2 separate regions of the Homo sapiens genome follow, and region 1 is linked to region 2. Evidence: fine-mapped QTL for protein levels in blood plasma. Region 2 holds a variant in brackets. A gene starts in the other region. All regions are shown on their forward strands.

Region 1 (12,324 bases), not on the chromosome of region 2:
TTTCCAACCCATCTCAGGAGGTCCAAACCAATTGCTTGTGCTGGAAACCGAGGTCCTGTCTCTTCATCTGTGAAGATGCTGGAACCAATAGAGCCAACCTGCTGGTCACCCCCACCCCAAATTGAGCCCCACTTGCTGAGCTCCTGCCACATAAGTCCTGCATGTACCAGACTCCCAGTGGCACAGCAGTTAGGGGCTGGGGTTCTGTAGTAATAGAGACCTGCGTTTGAATCTTGGCTCTGCCATTATCCACCTCCTGTGACCGTGGACAAGCTGCTTAACCTCTGTGAGCCTCAGTTTCCCCATCTATCAAGTGGATATGATAATGGTACCTACCCATGGAGAGGATGCAAATTTTGCACCCAATATCCCCTCTCCCTTTCCTCTTTGGTAATAAGATGTGAATTTGGCATACTAAATTAAAAATGCTAAGTGTGTTCATTCTCAACAATCCCAGGAGGAAGGCAAAGTGGGTGGCAGTCCCCTTTACAAATGAGAAACCTGGGGCACAGAGAAGAGTGGCATAGGTCATCCCACAAGTTAGTGGCTGAGCTTGGACTCGAACCCAGATCCCATTGCCCCACCCGAGGCCTTCCCCGCATCCTCCCACCTGCCCAGGCTCTGCTCCTACCTCCAGGTACTTCACGGGGATCTTGTGCTTGGTGGCATGCGACTGTGCCAGGGGCTTAATCTCTGCCTCATGATGCCCCTTCTTCTTAAGGATGCCACCCAGGGCGGTGAGCACGGTGGCACCATGCTTCTTTAAGTCCTCAGACGCCTTCATCTCGTCCTCTGACTTCAGGTGCTTGAACTTGTCAAACTTCTCCAGAGTCTCTGGGTGACCCTTAAAGAGCCTGTGGGCACAGGGAAGGCTGGAGTCGGCATGGGAGGTGCGGTGTGAGGTCTGGGGGCAGCCAGACTAGAGTTCAAGTTTAGCTCCCTGTCTTCCCAGCTGTGTGACCTTGGGCCATTCACTTCACCTCTCTGTGCCTCAGCTTCCTCATATAAGGGATGGGGATAACTTGTCCCTACTTGAAGGATTAAGTGAGATAGTGTGTGCTATGTACCAACAGGGTGTCTGGCACATAGTGAGTGTCATATAATTCCCATTTTACAGATGTGGAAACCGAGGTTCTGAGGCGTAAAGTCACCAGCTCACTATTGCAGGGGTGCTGTCCAGAGAAGCCAGGCTGGAATGAGGTCTGAGTGACCAAAACAGCAGTTCTAGTCCACGCTGCGACCATCTCTGCAGCTTCCTGCCCAGGGATTGTCCTTCAGCTGCTTAAATACCTCTAGCTACAGGAGGCTCACTCCTACCTGTGAGGGCCATTCCACTCCAGAGCAATCCTCACACTCAGAAACCTCTTGCTTGTTTTGAGCCCAAGCTGTGACTCTCTGAACCTCCCAGTCCCCTCACTGTGCAGATGACGAAGGGTCCTGGTGGGAGCAACTCAACCCAGCCCTGAGACAGGCACCCACTCCTGCCAGGCACTCAGTGAGGTGCCCCAGAGGCCTCTGCTGGGACTCTGAGCAGCCACCTCCAGCTTTAGACCTCGGTCCTTCCTGCCCACCTCCAACTTTAGACCTTGGTCCTTCCTGCCCACCTCCAGCTTTAGACCTCAGTCCTTCCTGCCCACCTCCAGCTTTAGACCTCAGTCCTTCCTGCTGTGAGCAGGTGGGTGCTGGTTAAAGGGAGTCAGACCTGCCCTCTGGGTAGGAGTGAGTTTCCGCCTTTTACTCATGGAAGACCACAGAGATAAGTGGCCAAGGTCACTTGGCTAGCTAGCGGCAGAGCCCAGACCTAAACCCAAAATGGAACAGTTTCATAACTCCCACCCTTTCCCTTGTGCCACAGCTGAAATGTTTGGCACGGGCAACCCTGTCTGCCCAGGGCTCTCTCTCCTGTCTAATGGTTTCAGTTCCTTGAAAAGCTCCTCTTTTATGATACCCAGGCTCTGTGACATCCTTGTAAAAGTACACAGTATGTATTGTGGCCACACTCCAGTTTGCGCCCTGAGCCACCATGCCCAGAAGTTGTCACAAGGAAGCACCTGATCCCCGTAGTCTCCATCCCAGGGTTTTATGAGGAGGGTATTTCACAACCAGGATGCTGAGCTCCTCAACCTGAAAATGAGTTCATGGTTTTTTTGTTTTTTGTTTTTCTTTTTTGAGATGGAATCTGGCTCTGTTGCCCAGGCTGGAGTGCAGTGGTGCAATCTCTGCTCACCGCAACCTCCACCTCCTGGGTTTGAGCAATTCTCAGAATTCTCCATGTTAGGCAGGATGGTCTCGATCTCCTGACCTTGTGATCCGCCTGCCTCAGCCTCCCAAAGTGCTGGGATTACAGGCGCCCAGCCATATTAACTGATTTTAAAATCCTGATGGGGTAGACGCCATTTTGCAGAGGAAGAAACAGAGGCACCGAAAGACTAACTAGCTGGGGATTTAACCCAGGCAGTCTGGCTTCATGTCTATACTCTTGATGACTATTCGGACTTTGTTATTGTTACACAGAGATATTTACAGGCAAACTGATACCTACATGGACATGTATCAACACCTCACACGTGTACATGCATGCAGGCTCTCACAGATGTGTGTGCACACTCACATATGGGCCTGCACACTCACACAGAGGTACACATAAATATATCCCAGCACACGCCATACTCACCTGCACACACACACAGAGACACGCACAAGCCTGAACCACATACACTCCCTTCCCCCATGTTGGGCATGGTCTGCCGCCGTGCCCAACATTGCCACCTCGCTCCAGGACCTTATCCAAATCCTCGTGCGTCACTGACGGCTTGTCTCTGACACCTTTCATCCAAGGGTCCCTGAGCTCCTGACTATTATTATCTGGCGACAATGATCCTTGAACTCCCGCCTGACAGATGCAAGACCTGGCATGCACAGGCGATGGTCAGAGGTCAGGACGCTGAAAGCAGACTGTCTGAGGCAGAGCAGGGCCAAGAATTTGGGCCACAAGGCAGCTGGGGGTCTCAGACATTTTGGGGCCTGCCCCTGCCCTCTGATATCTAGGGAAGAGAACATGGGACTGACAGTTACGGAAGCTGAGTTCCGGTCCCAGTTCTGGCGCCAATGTGCTCTGTGATGTTGAAGTCACTTAGCCTCTCTGGATCATTGCTCATCCATATGTAAACCAAAAGGGTCTAGACCCGCCAATGCCTTTCTTTCCACTCAACACCAGACAGCCAGGGAGAGAGCTCATATTTACTTTATTAATATTTTTTTGAGACACGGTATTGCTCTGTTGCCCAGGCTGGAGTGCAGTGGTGTGATCTTGGCTCACTGGAGCCTCAATCTCCTGGGCCCAAGTGATCCTCCTACCTCAGCCTCCCGCGTAGCTGGGACTACAGGCACACACCACCACGCCCAGCTAATTTTGTTTATTTTTTGTAGAGAAGGGGGGTCTCACTATGTGGCTCAGGCTGGTCTCGAACTCCTGGACTCAAGCGATTCCCCGATCCTGCCTCCCAAAGTGCTGGGATTATAGGCCTGAGCCACCCCACCCCACCCCATATTTACTTTAAACAGCAGAGCAGAATCGGGCTAATTTGTCTCCCCGCAAGATCATTCCGGCACCACACAGCTGCCTGCCTCCTGTGGGCCCAGGCCTTGCAGCTAGGAGCCCCCCAGGCAGCCACAGAAGGCCATTCTCCTGGATTTGCCTGATCCGGAAAATGAACAGATGAAAGCCCCTCAGCCTGTGGAAATGGACGGAGGGCGTTTGCTCTAGTATTTCAGAAAGCCCCGCTGGCCTGTGTTTCCAGCTTCAACCCTGCTGTCAGTGGGCCTGGTTCATCAGACAGATCTTCAGTCCAAGTCAGAGAGAAGGGAGGCCATTTTCCTGCTGTTCTCTGAACTGAGGCCCAATTGGACACTCACATGGAACATGGAGCACATTGTCAGATCCATGAACACCCCTCTGGCTCTACTAGAATAAAAGAACCAGAGCGTGGGTGGCAGCCCGTCTTGCGTGTGGCAAGGTCATGGGGCAGTATAGCATAGTGGTCAAGAGCAAGGATTCTGGGCCGGGCTCATTGGCTTGTAATCCCAGCACTTTGGGAGGCCAAGGCGGGCAGATCACCTGAGGTCAGGAGTTCGAGACCAGCCTGGCCAACATGGCGAAACCTAGTCTCTACTAAAAATACAAAAATTAGCCAGGCATGGTGGCATGCACCTGTAATCCCAGCAAGACTCCATCTCAAAAAAAAAAAAAAGGAGCAAGGATTCTGGATCCAAGCTGCCTGAATTTGAATTCCAGCTCCTTTCTTACTTGCTGTGTGACTTGGCGTAAGTTACTTAACCTCTCTGTTAAATGTGGTGATCATAATCATATCTACCTCATAAGATTGTTGTCAGGCTTCAGTGAGTGAAACACTTAAACAGAGCCCAGCAATCAGTATGTGCTGAATAAATGGTTGCTGTCTTTCTCCTCCTCATCATCTCTACCATTATCATTATCATTATCATTATCATCACCATCACCCAGGAATTTTTGGTCCTGCCTGTGGCTGCCATTAACCGGTGGAGACTCTCAGGCCCAGTTCCTCCCTGTAATGAGAAGTAGTGACCACCACTGGTGATTTTCAAACATTTTATGACCTTGAAATCCTTTGTTCCCCCCGCTCCCCAAAACAGCCAAAGTAAATAAAACAAAAAAGGTTTGAGTAAAGAAAGGAAAAACAGGGGTGTGGAGCCCACTCAGCAGCCCCCTCCCTTCCGAAGCCCCACTCCTGGAGCCAGAATCTCCAAGTGACCTTCCAGCTTCTGTGTTCTAGAATTTTATGTTTGTGTACGTGCAGTGAAGGCCTCAGTGTTTTACAGACTGGGCTTCATGGAATTTGCCCTCTTTTACAATCAGAAGATTGGAGACATAACCTTTCAAGGTCAGTTAGAAAATCCAGAGTCAGTATCTAGAACAAAGTCAAGATGCCAACTCTCACGGGTGGCATTTGCAGTCCTGGGCATGAGCCTCCTCCACCCTGCCCCCAGGGAGGCCATCCTCCCTGTACCCCAAATACTGAGAGGGCAGAACCAGCTGGCACAGTCTCTGCATGTCCCACAACCTAAGACGTGACAGGGCACCAGGCCTCTGGGACCTTTCAGGGACCAGCAACCCTAGGCATTATGTCTTATCCCTGGCTCCCGGCCCCCGGCAAACCTCCGTGATCCTCCCTGATGATGCAACACCCTGAGTCTCTTTCAAGACGTACAAGTCACTGCCTTAGGTCTGGCAGCTCCCAAATCACCTTGGAAAGACCTCTGCTCTGCAAACTCTGGTCTCCTACCTCCACGCCTGACTGTCCTGCCTCCTCGCCAAAGGCAAAAGTGCATCAAGGACTCAGAGAATTCTAGGGCATGAGCGTGGGACGGGATCTCGGAGACCATGGAAGACAATCCCTTCGCTCAACCAGCAGAGAAATAAGGCCCAGAGGTGGAGAGACTTGTCCAAGGTCACATGGCATATCTGTGGCCCAGGAGTTGATGTCAATTTGTGTGTGTGTGTTGGTCGGGGGAGCACTTTGTGCAATCCAACAGGGCCTGTTGCAGCCAGATGACAGGGACAGGAGAAGAAAGACATAAACACACTACGATGCCATTACAGTCAACAGAAAACTCAACTCTTCTTCCTCAAGTGTTTCTAGCACGGATCACCAACGGCTCAAATTTTAGATAACGGAGCTTCCAGGACCAGCCATGCTCCCGAGGTAGACGGAAGCTGGAAATGGGTAAAGCCCAAGGGAGACCCAAAGGACGACGGAGTGGAAGAGGAAAATTGGCTCTGGCTCACAAATAAGGAGAAATTAATCTGCAAATTAAAGTGCCAAAGACAATCCATTCACTTGTGGCAACCCCGGCGCCCACTTCCTTCCTCCCGTTGGCAGAAACGTTGATTCTTAACCTATTAGACTTCTGAGGGAACCAGCTCAGAATGGTGAGGGAAGGGGCCAAGAGAAGAGTGTATCACCTTTGGGATAGAAGGCAACGAGGAGATGAGCTTCTATGTACAAACCACAGCCACCCTCTATTTACAAACCTCAGAATTTTGTTTTCTTTGGTGTATTCTGGAATCCCTTGTGGTAGAAGGCAGGATATACTTGCAGACCACATCATTCAGACCTCTCAAACTAGAGACATACTCAACATCGAAGGTCACTAATGAGCCTCTATCTTCTGTTCTCTAATTGCAATGCTTTGAAAGGTCCCTAGCCTGGGCTTCATCAGTAATAGCTACTAACATTTCTAGGACTCAGTATATGCCAGGAACCATGCCAGGCCTCTTGCATGCATTATTTTATTTAATTCTCACATCTCCTCTAGGATATAGATATTAGGATATCCCCTCACTGTACAGGAGAGGAAATTGAGGCTCCGAGAGGTTGAGTACTTTCCCAAAGGTCACCCAGTGGCTCAGTGGCAGAGCCAAGTCTAGAACCAGATCTGTCTCCCCTTGAAGAGCATGTCTTAACCTTGACACTTTAAGAGCATTTAATGAGCTGTGACTCTGGAAATGTCCTCCCCTTCTCAGTCCCTTTTTGTCCTCATCCTGTAAGAGAGGTGGCTGTACAAAATCTCTCAGGACCCTTGTTAACTCTGACTGTCTATAATTCTAAAATTCTTCCTGGTGGACTCTGAGCATCCTAGGTTTGATTCTCATGCTTCCTCCAGCTGCTGACATCAGCCTGAAATGGCTCCTTTCCCTCTCCTGAGTCCAATCCCTGACACTTAAAAGCAAAGAAAAAGCAAGTGACCGTTCTAACACCCTTAACTAATGCAGCCAACTGACCTACCCCACGTGCAAACTTTCCACCTTGCAGCTGAACACCCTTGATCTTAGGGTGTGGGTGGCAGGGGCAATGGAATCTCTTCCTTTTACCTGATGAGGACTTCCTGCCCATGGCCTGGGATGTCAGCCTCCACCTTCCCCCAGACGTTCAGCACCAACTGCCATTCCCCGTCGCTGAGCCCCATGGCGCAGTCTGAAGAAGACAAAAAGAGCAAGTATGGGCTCACTGGGTGTCCTGGCCCCAACAGCTGGGGTTTGAGGCTGCCTGGTCCCAAGGGCGTTTTTATACCTTCTGGGATGCTTGACAAAGATCGCTCAATGGCTCGCTGTCCCCCTCCCCTGCCCTCCTTCACTTTCTCTCTCTCATCCAGGGAGGGTCTAATCTTTTCCTTTCTCTAGCCCTCACATGGGAAGCTATTTTAGGGCAGGTGCCATTGTGGCGAGGCAGGACAGCTCAGGCCACAGGGGGTGGGGTGGTTGTGCGTGTGGAAAGAAGGGGAGGAGGTTGGGCACTGTCTGGACTCTCATAGCCGACAGAAAGGGCACCACAGAAGCCGACGCCAGCAGCCTGAAACCCAACGCTCCCTGCGGTCAGCCCTCCCAAGAGGACCTGTCATGTTTCTAAGCTTGGCCACCAGGTGCCCCGGCTGGCCCCAGGACAGTCCTGGCCATTCGCAACCTCTCACGCACCTTCTGCCCCTTTGCCAGAGACCCCTCACCCAGCCAGAAGTGACAGAAAGGAACCGGATGGTTTTGTGCTTATAGCCAGGTGGTCCCAGGCAAGTCCACAATCTCTTAGAGAACTCCTGTTTTCATGACCCTGCTCAAAGGTTTCCCTCTGAAAAGTTTTTCTTGACATACTCCTTTGAGACACCACTAATTGCTTCCTCCTTTCCTTTCTTTGTGTAAGTTCCTGTTGCATTGCTTCCCAAAGGGCATCCTATTTCCTGGTTTTCATGCCATCTTCTCCATTAGGATAATAGCAGCCAGCACTCACAAGAGACTTTGCTGGGTGCCAGGCCCTGTCCCAAACACTTGGCATTTGGTAACTCATTTAATCCCCGCAAGACCTCCCAATGTGATAGGTACTGACATTATCCCTATTTAATTGAGAGAAAGTAGGGAAACATCACTGATGTACAACTAGTCGCTGGCAGAGTTGGGATTTGAACTCAGGAAGCCACGCCCCTTTCTTTGCAGTTTTCAGGAGGGCAGGAGCTCTGTTTTATTAACCCACGTATCTCTTGGGCCTCACATGGTGCTTTGTGCCAAGTTTGAACTGAATAAATGTTTATTGAGTAAATGGGTGGATGGTTTTGCAAAGAAAGAGAGTGGAGGATGATTAGCCTTATCTTACATCCATGCATCCTCCTTCAATCCATTCAGGTATTCAACCATCTATCCATTTATCCACTTGTCCATCCAGTTACTCATCCATCCATCCATCTGTCATCCCTTAATTCATCCATCCATCATCTCTTTGTCTATCCATGCATTCACTCATCTATCCATCCACCACCCATCCATCCAACATCTATCAATCCCTCCATCTATCCGACATCCCTTAATTCATCTATTCATCTATCCATCATCTCTTTGTCTATCCAGGCATTCATTCATCTATCCATCCACCCATCCATCCAAAATCCACCAGTTCCTCCATCTATCCATCTATCCATCCATCCATGTGTTCATCCATCCATCCCTCAATTCATTCATCCACCCATCATCCCTCCATTCATCCATCCACCCATCCCCTCATTCATCCATTCATTATCCCTCCATTCATCATCCCTCCCTCCATCCATCTATCCATCCATCACCCACCCATCCCTCCATCTATCTATCTGTTCCTCCATCCCTCCATCCATCCATCCACCCATTCCCTCATTCATCCACTCATTATCCCTCCATTCATCATCCCCCCTCCATCCATCTATCCATCCATCATCCACCCATCCCTCCATCTATCCTTCTATCCATCTGTAACTCCACCCATCCATCCATCCCTCTCACAGTGATAGAGCACCTACTGTGTGTCAGACACTGCTACATGCTGAGGATAACAAAATCAAATAAAACACCTTCCTGTGTTCAAGGAACTCAGAGTCTTTTTAGGGAGATAACTAAGAGGAATGAAAATACAGTACAGTTTGTTTAGTGCTATGATCAAGGTAGGCACAGGCCCTTCCTTCCATCTGCATAAGACTATACAGTTTACAAAGTGGCTGCTTGGCAAGATTACATCTAATCTTTACAACACCTCTGTGAGGTAGCGAGCACCACCCCGCTTTACAGCTGTGGGAGATGAGATTCAGAAAGGATAAGCCAGTGTTTGGGCCATCCTGGGTCTGCACTGGATTTGTCAGTAATGACTGCCCCACCTACACAGCTTTTTGAAGATAACTGCCCTGCCCCAATCTTGCTGAGGTGCAGGTGTAGCCAGTCATGTTCTGGGACACACAGTTCTCCCGCAAACCTGCTGCCAGTCACAGCCAAGCTGAGAAAGCCAATGTCAGGGCTCCATCTGAATAGTCAGCATCTACTAGCTCTGCCAGTCAGATCCCAGCTTCAGAATGTGAACAGAGATGTTTGGTAAGAATTGGACAAATAATAGGAAATGTAGCTAGAAAAAGAGTTAAATTCAAAGAATCCCCAAACTTGGAGTTCCCCAGTGCAACTTTGGGTCAGAACGCCCTCTGTGTGGGTCTCTAAAGCCTGGCTGGTGACCATTCTAGGATTGCCATGAGCCGCCACTCCCTGGAGGAGCCTTGTGTCTCCATTCAGTGAGTCCTGTGTACTGAGTCGGCTGACTCCTAGCGACCAAAAGGGTCAGAGGCACCGGCTGCACCTCTGGCGCCCCTTCCCTAGTGACCATTCCAGAAGTCAACCCCAAATGCTAGGCCAGCCGACCTCCAAAGGCCCATCTCTTTAGCAGTGGAAGAAGCAGTAACAAAATAAGTAGCTAAAATGCCATGGGGGGCCGGGCGTGGTGGCTCACGCCTGTAATCCCAGCAATTTGGGAGGCTGAGGTGGGTGGATCACAAGGTCAAGAGATCGAGACTATCCTGGCTAACATGTTCAAGCCCTGTCTCTACTAAAAATACAAAAATTAGCTGGGCATGGTGGCACGAACCTGTAGTCCCAGCTACTTGGGAGGCTGAGGCAGGAGAATCACTTGAACCCGGGAGGCAGAGGTTGCAGTGAGCCGAGATCGCTGTACTCCAGCCTGGCAACAGAGCGAGCCTCCATCTCAAAAAGAAAAAAAGAAGCCATGGGGATGCCAAAGGGGATCTCATTCATTCATTCAGTCAGTCAGTCATCTGTTTGTTCCTTTGTTCATTCATTCATTTGAAAGCCCATTACTGAGGCCCCAGTCTGTGCCAGGCCCAGCCTCAGAAGGAAAGACAACTCTGAGAGGGTCTGCCCCGGTCTCAGACTCTCAGCAGTTTGACCCTTACTGCTGGTCACTCGCTGGAGGTGAGTCCAGGGTGTGAGAGAGGAGGGCAGAAAGAAGGAGATGGCATTGAGCTGTGCCACATCTGACCTGGGGCCCCCTGCCTGGTGCGCTGGGGAAGGCCAAGAGGCAGATCTGAGACTCCTGGAGATTGAGACGCAATGTGCGGTTTTCAAATGCTCTCTGGCCTGTGCCCTCCCGAGAGTGTCAGAACACCCCTGAGGGTGCGGGGCAGGGCAGGGCTGATTACTACCCGAATCCCAGCTCTTCTCCCGTCTCTGGCCTCCTGAGTTGTCTGGGGATGGCCTGAGCATTTAAAATCTCATCAACCCATTACTGATGCTGAAATGTTTAATATGAAGCTATCACCCGCTTGGCAAGCGCCCCCATTAACTGGCATGCTCATGGAAACCTGTAGCTTTGAAGTTGATGGACCTTTTAAGTTTTACCATTTAAGCTAATGGGAAGGCACCGACATCTGTTTGTACTCACACATCTCTACAACAGAGCAGCGTTACCTCACAGTTGCTATGGCTACCTGGAGTCACCAGCTCTGTTTGGGGGCTATTATTATCCCTGTGACAGCCTTCATTATGGCCAGGGCAGAGAAGCTGCAGACACATGATAGGAAAGCCAGGCTGCCTTTGTGTGCAAAACTTTCTACAGCCTTACACGCTCATGCTACACACACGCACACACACGCACGAATGCAGGGCACATTAGTCTGATACCCAGTGGGGCAAAACTGGATCCCACCAAGTCAGACCTCCTCTTTTTCCCTTTCATATCACAGGATCCTTTGAATCCAAAACTGAGACTTGTAGAATCATCCTCAAGGCTCCCAATTCTGGAATCTTGAGATCCCAGAATTAAAATTCTAGAGTGTCAAAGTCTTCAACTTTTCAGCACCGGAGAAACTTGGGTTCTAGATTCCAGACTTATAGAGAGCTAGAAGCAGAGAAATCTAGAATTATAGGGCCATAGTATCTTGTGACTAAAAGAGGCCTTCAACGGTATTTTGTCCAATTTCCCACTAAACATAGTTTTCCCTACAGATCATCATCTGGCATCTGCTTGAATACTCCTGGGAGTGGTGAGCTCACTACCTAAAGCTTTAAAAATCCTTTTTTATGTCGAACCAAAAGATGCCTCCATGTCACGTGCACTTCCTTGCGGCAGCTCCGCCTGCTCCTTGGGGATATAGAGGCCCAGCTGAGTCTGCCTCACAAGAGAAGGAGCAGGCTCACCCAAGACTTTTCTTGTCCAGACTGAACATCCCAGGACTTCCACTGAGCACCCTCCCCAGGCAAGGCAAGTCGGGGGCCTCAGTCTGGTGGAGAAAGACGGGCTCTGCCATCTTCGGTCTCCAGCCACTCTCACCTCTGGTCACATGCACACAAAGAGAACGCTATAGCAAAGGGGATTCCAGCACCCACCTGCACAGGTTTGAGCCCCTCAGGCAGCTGTGCACCTGGCCCACAGTTTTTATGGTCAGAAAATCCAATCTAGGTGACCTAGGAATTTGCTAGCCCTTGGACAGCTGACAATTCCCTTTGGTAAATCTGGGCTTAAGACACCACCAAGGGAGATCAAAGATGTGGCAAGAAGGAGAACTCTGGCTCCTCAAAGCCAGGACTCCCCACGATCTTCACTACTCTCTTCCTCCTCCTTCTGGGAACCAGCCTTTGGAGGCCAGTCTGGGCAGTGCCTCCCTCCTGCCAGCAGGCCCTCCCACCCCACCCCCAGCTTAGCTTGTGCCTCCCTGGCAGAGTCTACCCTCCTGGACCAGCGCCAGGCCAGGGCTCAGAGCAGGGCTGAGGCCTGGGAGTTGCAGGACCTGCTCAAGGCCCTTGATGGGGCAGCAGAACCCCCAAGCTTGCTCCAGACTCCCAGGAACCCACCCACCAGGGCTGCTCCTCTCCAGCCCCTCAGCATCCATCATACTGACCACAGCTCCCCTTCTCCCCAGCTGTCCTCGCAGAGCCTCCAGCCAAGCGGCCAGGGCTGGGGGTGGGGAGAGGTGTCTTATAGCAGCCGGGGAGAGGCA
Region 2 (12,324 bases):
ACCGCGCCCAGCCGAATATTCACTTTTATACACACGCAGGCCTTATTTACATTCTTTTCTACAGGCTGGTGGGTTTAAAAAAAAATACTATAGCCGGACACGGTGGCTCATGCCTGTAATCCCGGCACTTTGGGAGGCCAAAGTGAATCACTTGAGCCCAGGAGTTCAAGACCAGCCTCGGCAACATAGTGAGACCCTGTCTCTCAAAAACAAAATAATAAAATTTAAAAAGTATATATACTTACAATATTTCTATCAGTACAAATAGCGCCATCTCAAAGTTTTTTTTAAAGATGGCATACTATTCCACTGTATGCATAAACCGTAATGTATTTAACAAAGTCCCAATTAATAGGCAGTGAGGTAGTTTACAAGGTTTTGTTATGACAAACAATGTTATACTGAAAGTGTATGTGCAAAGGCAAGAAATAAATGGGATTGTGTGACCAATCAGCCATGCAGGGTTAGGGACAGGGAGGAATCAAGTATGATGCCAGGTTTCAAGCTTGGTCTCCTTGAGTGTCAGACATTTTTACTCTCTGGCTGACTCCTTTTGTCCACCCATCTCCACTGTGGCCCTGTACACATGACTAAGAAAGTCGGGGAATCGTCACCTCTACAATGAGACCAGAATGGGCCACAGTAACATGGCCGTGAGAAACCTAGTGCGTGTGTATACTCTACCCGCAGACTAACTCTGTTCCATCCTATTTAGCACTGACTTGAGTGTGTAGGTGAGCCTGCGCCTGTGTGTGCATAAATGTGCATATCACTCTGAGAAAGCAACCCTCTGAGGAGTGAGTAGCAGGCCTCCTGCACATGTGCACACCCACACACCTCCCCGTCTCCAGGAGGTGCCAGCTCGTTCCTCCAAACACAAACGCCGCTGTCTCTGCACCTGGCGAGGGGTGTGCGCTCATTCATAAAATCACGGAGGCTGCTCTCTGACAGTGTCAGGGTCTTGGATACTTCTGAAGCCCCTCACACAGAGCCACTTTCAAAGACCAAGCTCAGGACGCCACTATTCACTGCTGTGTTCTTCCTCTTATTGCAGTGTCTTATTGCAGAAGGCTTCATATAGAATGGCATGACTGGAATTAACCCAAGGGGCTTCTCGAGACAAGGGCTCCCACGGTGACCCAGCCTTTGACTTCTGTGGAATGAGGAGCCTCTTGGCCTTTTTTGTGAGCCTTACATAAAGCCACAGACACACATACCTCTCAGAGTGTTGGACCTGAAGGGAAATGAGAGTCAGGTCCCAGAGATTAGAAAGGGGTGCATTTTTCTAATTCATCTTTTCTTTTTAATTACAGTGTGCACACAGCTCTTGGTCTCCAGACCTGATGAGGAAAATATAAGTTCCTATTTACAGCTCATAGACAAGTGTCTAATTCATGAGGTGAGTAGTGACAGGTTTTACAAAACCATTTTTTTTTTATTGCTTAGAAATGGTTCTCAGAGTTTCTGTGATGTGATCATTTTAGCCTCCAACAACTTGTTTTTGAGTGGTGGACAGTTATTAATAATAGGTTGGGCAGAACTAGGCTATGACAGCCTCAAACCCAAACACAGCTTGAACATTACTTTGGTGTCCAAAGATTTGCCCAGACTGAGTGTTCTGATGTGCAGTGAACGCCTGCAACGACTTCTGGCTGGGGAAGCAGCCCCGGGTGGCCAAGCCTCAGAGGGTAACACATGAGCCCTGCTGCTTAGCCCTGGGCATTGTCAGGTCTTTTAAAAATCTTGTGTTGAACTCTTGCCTTTTAGCTCAGGGAACTGGAGAGAGGAAGGGAGAAAGAGAGCCCATAAAGAAATAATGAATGTGTATATGTGTGTGTGTGTTTGGGCTTGCGATTGTTGTAGGAATCGTATTTGCCACATATCCTTTTGGAGGAGGCCTGAGGCAGGCTGCAGGTGTGCCTACTGGACCCTCAGGCACAGTCTTCATATACAGAGTGAGATAGACCCTTTGGCATGGCGGGGCTAGGCAGCCGTCAGCACTGGTGGCTGTCCCTAAGGGACATGTAGGGAGAGGGAGTTGCACCTCAGACCTAAAACTCCAGTGGCTCCTTGGGCACCCCTCCCTCCCCACAAAGAGCTACAGCAGCAAGGCCTAGACTAGAGAAAACTTGGGACCAGATAAACCTAGGATGGTGAAGTCTTTTTGTAGGATTTCGATGTGAGAATAAGATAGTAAGGGGGCCGGGGTGGTGGGTCACACCTGTAATCCCCACACTTTGGGAGGCCGAGGTGGGAGGATCACTCGAGGCCAGGAGCTTGAGACCTGCCTGGGAAACATATCAAGACCCTGTCACTACGAAAAAAAAAAAAAAAAGCCAGGTGTGGTGGCGCACACCTGTAATCCCAGCTACTCGGGAGGCCAAGGTGGGAGGATGGATGGCTTGAGCCCAGGTGGCCAAGGCTACAGTGAGCTATGATCCTATCACTGCACTCCAGCAAGAGCAACACAGTGAGACTTGTCTCGGGGAAAAAAAAAAATAGTAAAGGCCCCAGGCCTCCTCACCTTTGCTGCATGGGCAGCCAGTACTCCAGGAGTCCAGTAGGGTCCGGTGAAGGGAGACGCCCAGCACAGCGGCCAGGCCCCTTCTCCACTTCCCTCTCATGTTCTCACCCTTCCAGCTGTCACATGGGCCCTGTGCTATCGAAGTTCTCACGGCCCTCACCCACTACCCACACTTCACATACAAGGGTACAGTCCCCCTCTGGGATTCCATCCCAGCTCCCCCTTCCCCACTTCCCCAAACCCTCATTTTTGCAGTTTCTCCTCTTGGCCGTATGGATTCTTATGTGCCCAAGCGGCTCTGGCCAAAGTTGTCAGTGTGACTACAGTGACCAGCCGCCTAGGTTGGGGGCTCAGACACGCCATCCTCTGAAATGTTTAACTATACCAAAGTACTAGACTTTTCACTGAAAAAAAAATGGTTTTTTCCCTCTTTAATGGCTTCCCTAGAGCACCCAGGCATTGTCAAAAGCCCGTACTGAAGGCTTATTTGTGACTTTGTTTCAGGGACAAGGCCTTCTCCCCACAAGCCTTGACTAATCCTTTTCTATTTCGAATCCTGACACTGGACTCGTTTTGGCCAGGAAAAAGCGACAAAGGAAGAGAAAGCAAGAACACAGTGAAGAATGTTACAACTCGTCCATTCCCTAGATACTTACTGAGCACCTAGGCAGGTTACAGTAGTGAGAGAATTAGGCAGGTTACAGTAGTGAGAGAAGGGGTGAGACAGAAAGAAACAGGCCATCACAGCCATGATGAGAAAGCCTCTGATAAGGTCATCCCTGAGTGCCCTGGAGCACAGAGGAGCAGCAGCAGCGGGCACCAAACCTGGAGCCAGAACAGGGCATTTCCGTGGAGGAACCCTCTCCACCCTGAGACCTGAAAGGCAAGCGAGAGTCCTGGTGGTACAGACTCGGTTCGTAAGGAGGCAGAAGAGAGTGATGTCTGCAGGGCTCCGTGTTTTGTTGAGAAGTAGGACATTTGTGGGTGGCTTGGGGCAGACGGAATGGGGAGGATTTCAGCCTCTGATAAAAGCACACCGGAACTCTGCTTCCTCTCCCACGCCTGCTCTCAGCATTGATATTGGAGGACAAGGTACTGTCCACCTTGCCTCAAGACAGCTGAGCCCATGAGACAGAAATCGTGAGTCCTCCAGCTACCTGTGCCAAACAATCCACAGGCTTCCTAATTGTCCCTCGGCAGCCCCGAAACTCTGGCCTGACGCTTCCTGCTTGCCTGCCATCCTGCATGTCCTCCCTTGGTACCCTGGCTCTGGTTTTGTTTTTTCCCCTTGACCTCCGTGCAGCCCCAGGTGATCTCCTCTGGTTGCCCAGAGGGGCCTCTCGTGGCTGGGGGCCCCGGTCAGGAAGGAGCTGGTGAGGTGTCTGCTTGCTAAGTTCATGTCAGGATGGAGGGGCCTGCGTGCTGCTTTGGAAGGGAAAATGTTGTTCAGGGCTTTTTATGATTTTACTTTGAGAGAGAGGAAAAGCTGTCTGAATAATTTTCCACAGCCTCCGGTTATTCTGTGTGGGTAGAACACGCCCTGCCTGTGAGGCCCCGTGAAGGCGCACAGCCTCCATCCTGGAAGAAGTTTCACCCGGGCACAGAGAGACAGGACGCCCCTTCATAGCCCGGACACGCTGTTCCTTAGCTGGCTGGGAGCAGGGAAGGTATTGAGTGGGCCAGGACACCTCCCTTCCTTCCCGGGATGGAGGGACCGAGTCCCCAGAGTCATGAATGGAAGGAGAGGAAAGTTCTGAATTTTACTTCTGAGACCAGTCACTTTGACTCCTGAATTATAATCCCAGGCCTCTGGGCACTTCCCTGTGTCTTGAGGTGGCTCTGAGAAGATGAGCTCTTGCCGCTTTATGAACCTTTTCATCCAGCCACATATGCTGGGACACCATAGCCATCTTCCTCCAGACAGATGCATTGGTCTAGGCCTGAGAGGGCCAGAACTCTGGAGTGGTGACTAGGGGTGCCTGGGCAGTTGCTGGGCATGAAGCCTTCCCTTCCCCTCCAGGCCCCTTGGGAAGCTGCTCCCCAGCCCAACCTGGGGCTGCCAGCGGAGGGGGCTGCAGTGAGATTTTGGGCATCATAGCCAATGCAGATCCCCCATAACTGAGCACTCCCCTGTAGGCCAGGAACCAGTGTTCAGAAACTCCTGAAGCCAGCCACAACCGAGCACCACATCCCCAGCTGAGAACCGGCCCCCACTCTCACTCAGCACTGCTAATGGGCTGGCTCCCATCTGCAGCCCTGAAGGAAAGGAGCCCGCTGCCCATTGAGGTGCTCAGGGAATGCGCCGACCTCCCCAGGAAGGCGCCAACATTCCCACCTTCTTGGATGCTGTTTGCCACCAGGGAAGATGTCATGTCTGTAATGATGTCTTAGGAAGCACATCCATGAAATGAGCCCTTTACTCCGTTGTCACTTGGAAACTCAGGCCAGTTGTCCTTCAGGCTGGCACCAGACCAGCTCAGTATTATAGTTTAGAGACCTTGAAGTCATTTGCTGTGTGCTATTGGAGCTCAAGGTCATGTTGAATACTTAACGCGATGAACAGCCGTATACCACCACCAAACGGCCGGTCTGTGCAGTCCAAAACAAAACCCCAGTGTGACACCTGTGAGTGGCATCTATTTGAACCGTTATTAAGAGCGAGGCACGTTCCAGGTATTCTAAGTGTTGTTCATGTGTTATTTCATTCTCACAACATCCTTTTGAGGGAGATATTATTATCCTCAGTTTCTAGGAGGCACTGAGTCTTGGGTAGAGGGGCATGCGTAAAGGCGTGCAGGGATTCGAGCCCTGCCCATCTGCATCCAGAGCCTTCCTCTGGCCCACAACTCTCCTCCCCAGGTCACCCTGACCAGCATGCCCACATGTGTCCTCACACAA[C/T]ATGTGGCTGAATAAGCCAGTCAAAAGCAGAAATGATCCCCTCTCGCTGTTAGTCCAGCAGAAACGCTTGCCTTTTGCCCAGTTTCAGAGGTACTCGTGTGTAGCTGGACATGCAGGGAGCATCACCAACCAATGAGAGGGACTGTGGAGGAGAGCCACGCCCTCGCCTCCTAGCCCACCTTGATGCATATTCTTAATGGCATCTGGCTAAGGTCACCCGGGAAGAAGGGGTTTGTAAGTCCTCAATGACGTTTCTGCCACATGATTAACATCCTTCTGCTTTTGTCCACAGAGTTCTCCTGGTATTTAGGTCCTTAAAGATTCAGCATCACTGGGAGACAACTAAGCTGTCATTTTTTTTCTCCATTTAAGGAATCTGTTTCCTTTATGGGAACTAGTCATTTAGTCTGTTACTGAGTAATATTTTATGACTACTTAAAGGAATTCATGCCCTATTGACAAAACTGCTTCGGAAACTTCTCTCCCTCCTTGTTACTGTGAATCAATCAAATCACATGGATTTCCCACAGCACGTGTTCTAAGTTACAGTTCTAGTCACTTGGCAGGGGATTCATATGTGACGTGGGGTCCTCACCATCTAGAACACCTCATGTTCATGCTCTACCTGCAGCAGAATTACCAGGGCACTTGGTACAAACACAAACTCTCTAGACATCCCCTTCAGATCTACTAAATCAGGCTCTGGGCATGTGGAAGGGAGCCCAGGTATCTGAATTTTGACTGTCTCCTTGGGTGATTCTAATATATCATGAATCTGAGAGTTCCTGCCTTGGAGACTCCTAACCCACATAAAGTCCTTTCCTAGTCTGTGGCAAGTACAAAGGCTAAACGCAAAAGGAAATATAACATAGGTAAGAGTTTGTTACAAGGCAGCAGGCAAAACACACACACCAGTTTTGCTAGAAAAGAGTTCTGCAGGCATCAGACCTACATACTTCCCTAAACTTTAGAGAAGGTTTAAGTCAGGACTGGTACACTGGAATTTTTGTAAGGCAAGAGACCCATTAACTGGAGATGTCTCAGCAAAGCCCTGAAACACAGAGAATATAGTCCATTCTCTGACACCCTGTAGACCACTCTAGGGTGCCCACACACCATCAAGCAGATTGATTTTTGGAGTGGTTGAGAATTTTCATTGATTATGAAAATGCAGGGGGCCTGCAAAAGCCAGAGTATTCAACAATCAATTTTGCAATTCATTCTTGGTTAATAAATAGAGTCTGGAGTGGAGTCAGGAGGGAGGGGGAATGTGGATATGGATCTGCCAGAAATGTCACCAAAAATGAGGGTTGTCAACAGTTTGATGCGTGTACCTTATCACGCACCTCCAATGTCAGATAACTTAAATTTTCAAAATAGGGCAGCTCCCAAATTAAACTGACTACGTTTGGACCAGGTTAGAAACAGGTGAAGAAAAGGCAACTGCAGAGACTCCAATGTTTTCCCCTTATTAATTGCATGTTTCTCCCTCTAATGCCAGGCTGCGTCACCCATTTAAAAGTCCTGTTTGTTTTTGCAGGCATTTACAGAGACACAGAAAAAAAGATTGTTGTCATGGAAACAGCAGGTGCAGAAGCTCTTTCGGTCTTTCCCTCGGAAAACCCTTCTAGACATATCAGGATATCGACAGCAAAGAAAGTATGTTGGGATTTCATTCTTTGTAATGCGTAGTGGTTCCCCTGGCGCCTTGTTGCCTACCTCGGTTCCTGGGGCAGGAATATGGCAGGGCACCATTCCTTGTTCACGAAGATGCCCTGTGGCGAGTTCCAAATTGCATTGCTTAAACAGGTGGGGCTGGGAAAAGGCTGTGAGAGTGAGCATTCCCAGGCGAAGAGCTGAATGTGAGCTTTTGTAACACAGTTTGCATTGTCAAAATGATGGTAATAGTCCGGATGGGTATCAGAGGGGAGAGTGGGTATGATTTAACAAATGCAGGCAAAACACAGGATGGCTTACCCACAAAAGGGGGATCTGAAAGGATAAAAATGGGTTGTTCTATCAATCAGCACCTTAAGTGGTAGTGTGATTTTTTTCCCCCTTCGTGCTGTAGACAAGCTAATTATAGTTGGTGGCAGGGTGAAGAGCCCAGTGCTAGTCTATTTTGGTCTGCAGTCTCATAGTGGAGCAGTACAATTCTTGATTTTTCCATAGTACTTCAGCTTCTTGCACGCAGTTAAAAATAAGCCTGGTTGTACTTTAGAACCCATTACCTTAATATAGTTTTAAATTGAGGAATCCAATTACATATTAAAGATGAACTGCAGTGACAATTTGTGGGAGAAATTAAGGGTAGAGGAAGGGTTAAGCCTTAAACAATGATAGGGAATTGTTGGGACATAAGGGAATGAGAATGTAAACATCCTGAAAAATTAACATTCTATTTTACACTTTTAAAACATGAGCAGATAATTTCTTCACTTGCACCTGAAAGGGTCTGAATTCATTTCATTTCTCGGTGCATGTATAGAAGCTCTCTGCCCGTGGTGTTAAAATTTTGGGCATTTATTTGCGTAAGCGTGCCTTAAAACATCACTATTTTGGATTTAAGGGAGATAAGGCCAGTTGAAGTTTGTGAAAAGACTTCATGAAAGATTAATTTTAACACTGAAGTGTGATCACATTCCAGCATATATAACGGTTATTTATTAAACAAACATTTATTTAGCACTTACATATGCCAAGTGGTATCCAAGCACTTTAAGAATATTAATACATTTAATCCTCATGACAACCATGTGAGGTAGAGCTGCTGTTGTTAACCCCATTTACAGACAAGTTCATAGGCAGCAGCATTGGGGATTTGAACCAGGCAGGCTGGCACCAGCTCCAGCTCCATGCTTTTAACCCTATGGAAGCCAGGCAACTCTCATGGTCTCAGGATGATGAGCAGAAAAGATTGTTCAGGCAAAGCGACACTCTTCAGGACCAGTTCCCTGGCCCCAAGCCCTCTGGGGTTGCCAACCCTTGTGGGTTGGACTAGACTACCTCTTTGCCCTGAGGATTCCCGATGGCCCAGATGAAAGGCAAGGTCTGCTTCCTTGGCCTCCTGCCCTGGGGCCTACCCCCATCCCAAGTGGCTTTTCTCTGAGAGCAGCAATACTTTTCCCAGGTGAATAGAAAAGGTTCCAGACTCCTCTTGCAACACCAGGCCCTTGGGAGACAAGTTCCAAGAGGAAGAAGGCATTCGGAGGTTGGAGATGAAGATGGGGCGGCTCTTTGCTGCTCCTCCCAAAGTCCCACCCTGGCCTCTGTCAGCCCTGTGTTGTCATTGGTCCACATCCGAGAGCCTTCTGGAGGTGGAGCAGGGGACATGAACCTTGACCTCTCCAGGGTGTTTGTTAGTAACACTTGGATTGGGCTAACCCAAGGTTTGCCAGGTTGGAGTCCTAATGGACCCCTTTTAATTGATTAGATAAGAATGAATCGCTTGTGGATGTTCAACTGGATGTTACTATAAGGCTGGAAAATGTTTTATACTCATAAGTATTTCCTCTGGGATCTTTTTGTGCTATTAATTTGCTTTGAAGACCTGTTTCTCCAATAATACAAAGGTAACTGCAACCCAACCCCTGCTTGAATTATCACAAATCCCAAATTAATTGGTTCTTATTAATGTTACTTTATCAAAGACTTTTCATGCATTTCAACATTTCAGTGTAATGAAATCAGATTTAGAAAGGTAAGGCAAGAGAATGAGAAAGGAAAACTTGCTTTTGTCACTTTGTTCTCTCCCCAGAAAGCATTGATGATTTCATTAAGCCTAGCGATCTTAAGTAACCCAAGCATTCACTCTGGTTGCCAGCAGTGGCAACCCTCTGCAAAGCTGGCTTTGTAATAACCCTCGAAGGGTCCCATCAGGAGAGAGAAAGATGGCCTAGCCAAATTCTCCCCTCATCACGTCCTACTCCCCTCCCCTATACAGCTGAGTCCTAAGAGTCCCTGGATCCCTCCTTTCTCCAGTGACTATAAGTATCCCATAACAGAGTCCTCTTCCCACATTATATTGCTTAAGAATTCAGTCTTGCCTTCCTGGAAACACAAATCATTTTAGCATCACTCATTGACTCTGTATTTTGCATATGAAATAACTTTTTAAAAATCCAACCAAAAAGGAAAGTGAGAAAACGCTATCCACGCTAAATAAGGAAAAATCATAGCAGAATACTGAATCATCTACCAGGTGGCCAAAATTCCGACTTCAGAACTCAAAGGACTAGTTTTCGTCATTAAAAACAAACAAACAAAAAAAAAAAACACTCGGCCCTTGTCTCTACCTCACGTAGTCAGATTGTCCTTCCTCCAAAGGAGGTCTCATCATGTGAAACTTATTCTACCCCTCCTGGCCCTGAGTTCTTCCTTCAAACCAAAAAATCTGAAGCCTTCGTAAAAATGAAAACGAAATTTTTAAAAGGGAAAATGGGAGAAAAAAGGAAGAAAGGCCAAGACAAAGATACCAAGAACCTGTGAGTGTCCTCCTCACCACATTCAGATGAGCTTCTGACCAGAATCTAGAACTCCTTCCTTGGCCACCAAAGCCTGGAAGTAGAAAGGCACAAGCCCAGAATTCTCCTTCCTGCCACTTCTCCCCTTAGGAAATTTAAGAATTCTGGGGAGAAGAGAAACATTTTCTGAGATCTGCACTGCTGGCTCAGATGCCCCTCCCCCTACATACAGGCACAGCTCTCTTTCTCAGGAAATGACTGTTCTGCAGGCCCCTATCACCCTCAACTGGTTAAACTACGTCAGCCCTGCTTCCCGGAGTCTCCCCACAGGCTTGGTACAAACCTCCCCTGTGTCGCTGGAAAAGCAGATCTCTTCCATCTTGTGGCCACTGGAGGTAAAACATTTTGACTTCAACATCCGTGAATGACTACAGCTGACTCTTCTTGGAAAGAATGTGCTGGTTCCTGAAACCCTGCCGGCTGCTGTATAACCTCCCGGACCTGAGGCGTGTCAGAGAGGATGCGTTCTTCAGTGCTGAGGTCACCCAACCCAACGGCAGCGCCGGCATCTGCACGTGATGCTAAGGGCTCTGGCAGCCTCCCTGCCCGGACCCAGGAGAAGCATGGACCTGCCCTGGCCCTTATGCAGCCGACTTTGCAGGGAGGGCCTGTGAAGTGAAGGCAGTCTGTGTCCTAGGTCCAGAACACTTGCAAACATCATCTCCGACCTTATATCCCTCGCCCCACAGGTGGCATCAGCTCTCCCATTTGAGGATGCGTCATGATGGCAGAGACTCATTGGTTCATTCATTCAACTGCATTCACTGTGCAGAAACTGATTCAGGCACCGGACATGCAGGATGGATGAGGACAGACATGGAGCTTACATCCTGGTGGGCCTCACAGGCTTCTCCAAGTCCGCCACACAGACAGGCTGAGCAGAAACAATGATAGGATTAAAGAAGGGAGCCCTGGGACAGGAGTCAGACCAGTTGTGACCCTGACTCTGCTGTTTTCTTGCTATGTGGCCTCTCAAAAGCATGTGAGTGTTCAAGACCTGTGTCCTCATCTGCAGCAGCATGGGTTGGAGAAGATGCGGTAGGGAGGCGCAAGGCGGCAGGCAGAGTGCTGGTGAACCTGCTGAGCCTGCGTGCCAGCGCTGCCCCCTGCTGGCTGTGTGACCTGTGCACAAGGATTACGCGCTGTTTTACTTCTCCAGCTACAAAGGAGAGAGCACCTACTTCATAGGGTTGTTGCAAGGATCGAAAAATAATGTCGAAGTCCCAGGAAGTTCCATGTGATACCGCCTCTCAGATGTTAGCTGCTGTTTTAATTATAGTTATTTGCTGGCACACAGCTCCCTGTAGGCTTCATAACTGTCAAAATGTGAGCAGAGGCGGGGTGCAGTGGCTCACGCCTGTAATCCCAGCACTTTGAGAGGCCGAGGCAGGAGGATCACTTGAGCTCAGGAGTTCCAGACCAGCCTGGGCAACATGGTAGACCCTGTCTCCACCAAAAATATAAAAATCTGTAGTCCCAACTACTCAAGAGGCTGAGTTGGGAAGATCGCTTGAGCCTGAAAAGTTGAGACCAGCCTGGGCGACATAGTGAGACTCCATCTCTACCAAAAAAAAAAAGTTAGCTGGGCATGGTGGCACATGCCTGTAGTCCCAGCTACTCCAGAGGCTGAGATAGGAGGATCACCTGAGCCCAGGAGGTCAAGGCTGCAGTGAGCCTAGATCTCACTACTGCACTCCAACCTGGGTAACAGAGTGAGACCCTGACTCAAAAAAAAAAAAAAAAAAAAAATGAGGAGACCTCCAAGGCGACATCCCTTGGGAAGCCTGTGGCTTAAAAAGGGCTGAATAACGACTGATATTCTCTTCCTTCTCTCTTGGCTCTCACAGTCGAGGCTTTGGGCAATCCAACTCCCTCCCGACGGCTGGCTCTGTGGGCGGTGGCATGGGCAGACGGAACCCGCGCCAGTACCAGATCCCCTCTCGGAACGTCCCTTCCGCCCGCCTGGGCCTCTTGGGCACCAGTGGATTCGTCAGCTCCAACCAGCGCAACACCACAGCTACCCCCACCATCATGAAACAAGGAAGACAGGTTTGTTCTGCCCCAAGGAAGGAGGAGGATGGCCAAGCTCAAGGCCCAAGGCTGCAGATGTCCCCCCAGGTGACCCCAGGGTGGGGAGAGAGGCCAAAGGGGACTATGCTGGGGGCAGTTGCCACCATTCCTCAGAGGTAACAGCATTGTTCGCGTTGTTCTCTAGCAGACAGAGCAACCCCATAGCTGTGTTTAGGATGCCCAGAGGACCACTTTAACCTTGGGGACCCTGCACAAGAGGACCTTTAGAAAGAAATGCAAGACCTATTTCTTCTTTGCCCCATGCTTGACCTTCTGCCACCCAAATCTGGGTTCCAGGAGAGCCTGGCA

Alleles and levels. Positions count from the first base shown, and alleles are read on the strand shown. Strength reflects both the effect of a copy and how common the allele is.
For the plasma level of the protein whose gene starts at base 7,077 in region 1, T is the low allele of the variant in region 2 and C is the other (weak association).

What was found. PIP is the posterior inclusion probability: the model's chance that the variant is causal. Protein levels are from antibody-based Olink assays in UK Biobank. Linkage for the fine-mapping came from a reference panel and not from the study's own genotypes, which makes the PIPs less certain.
Region 1: it holds the start of MB, and the variant in region 2 is fine-mapped to the plasma level of the MB protein (UK Biobank, PIP 0.99).

What each region holds. Positions count from the first base shown.
Region 1 is chr22:35,610,253-35,622,576 of GRCh38, forward strand. It overlaps MB (myoglobin), which reads right to left and starts at 7,077. Exons shown (of 3, transcript NM_005368.3): 1 at 6,911-7,077; 2 at 632-854. The coding sequence starts at 7,005. RefSeq lists a silencer at 1,788-1,837 and an enhancer at 11,816-12,324.
Region 2 is chr14:54,763,142-54,775,465 of GRCh38, forward strand. SAMD4A (sterile alpha motif domain containing 4A) reads left to right here. Exons shown (of 13, transcript NM_015589.6): 8 at 1,314-1,399; 9 at 6,963-7,081; 10 at 11,793-11,994. Among named protein-coding and RNA genes, the nearest start is that of SAMD4A-AS1, 81 kb to the left of the region's middle. RefSeq lists enhancers at 9,851-11,050, 10,334-11,262, 11,136-11,185. The variant C/T (reference allele first, on the strand shown) is at 5,423.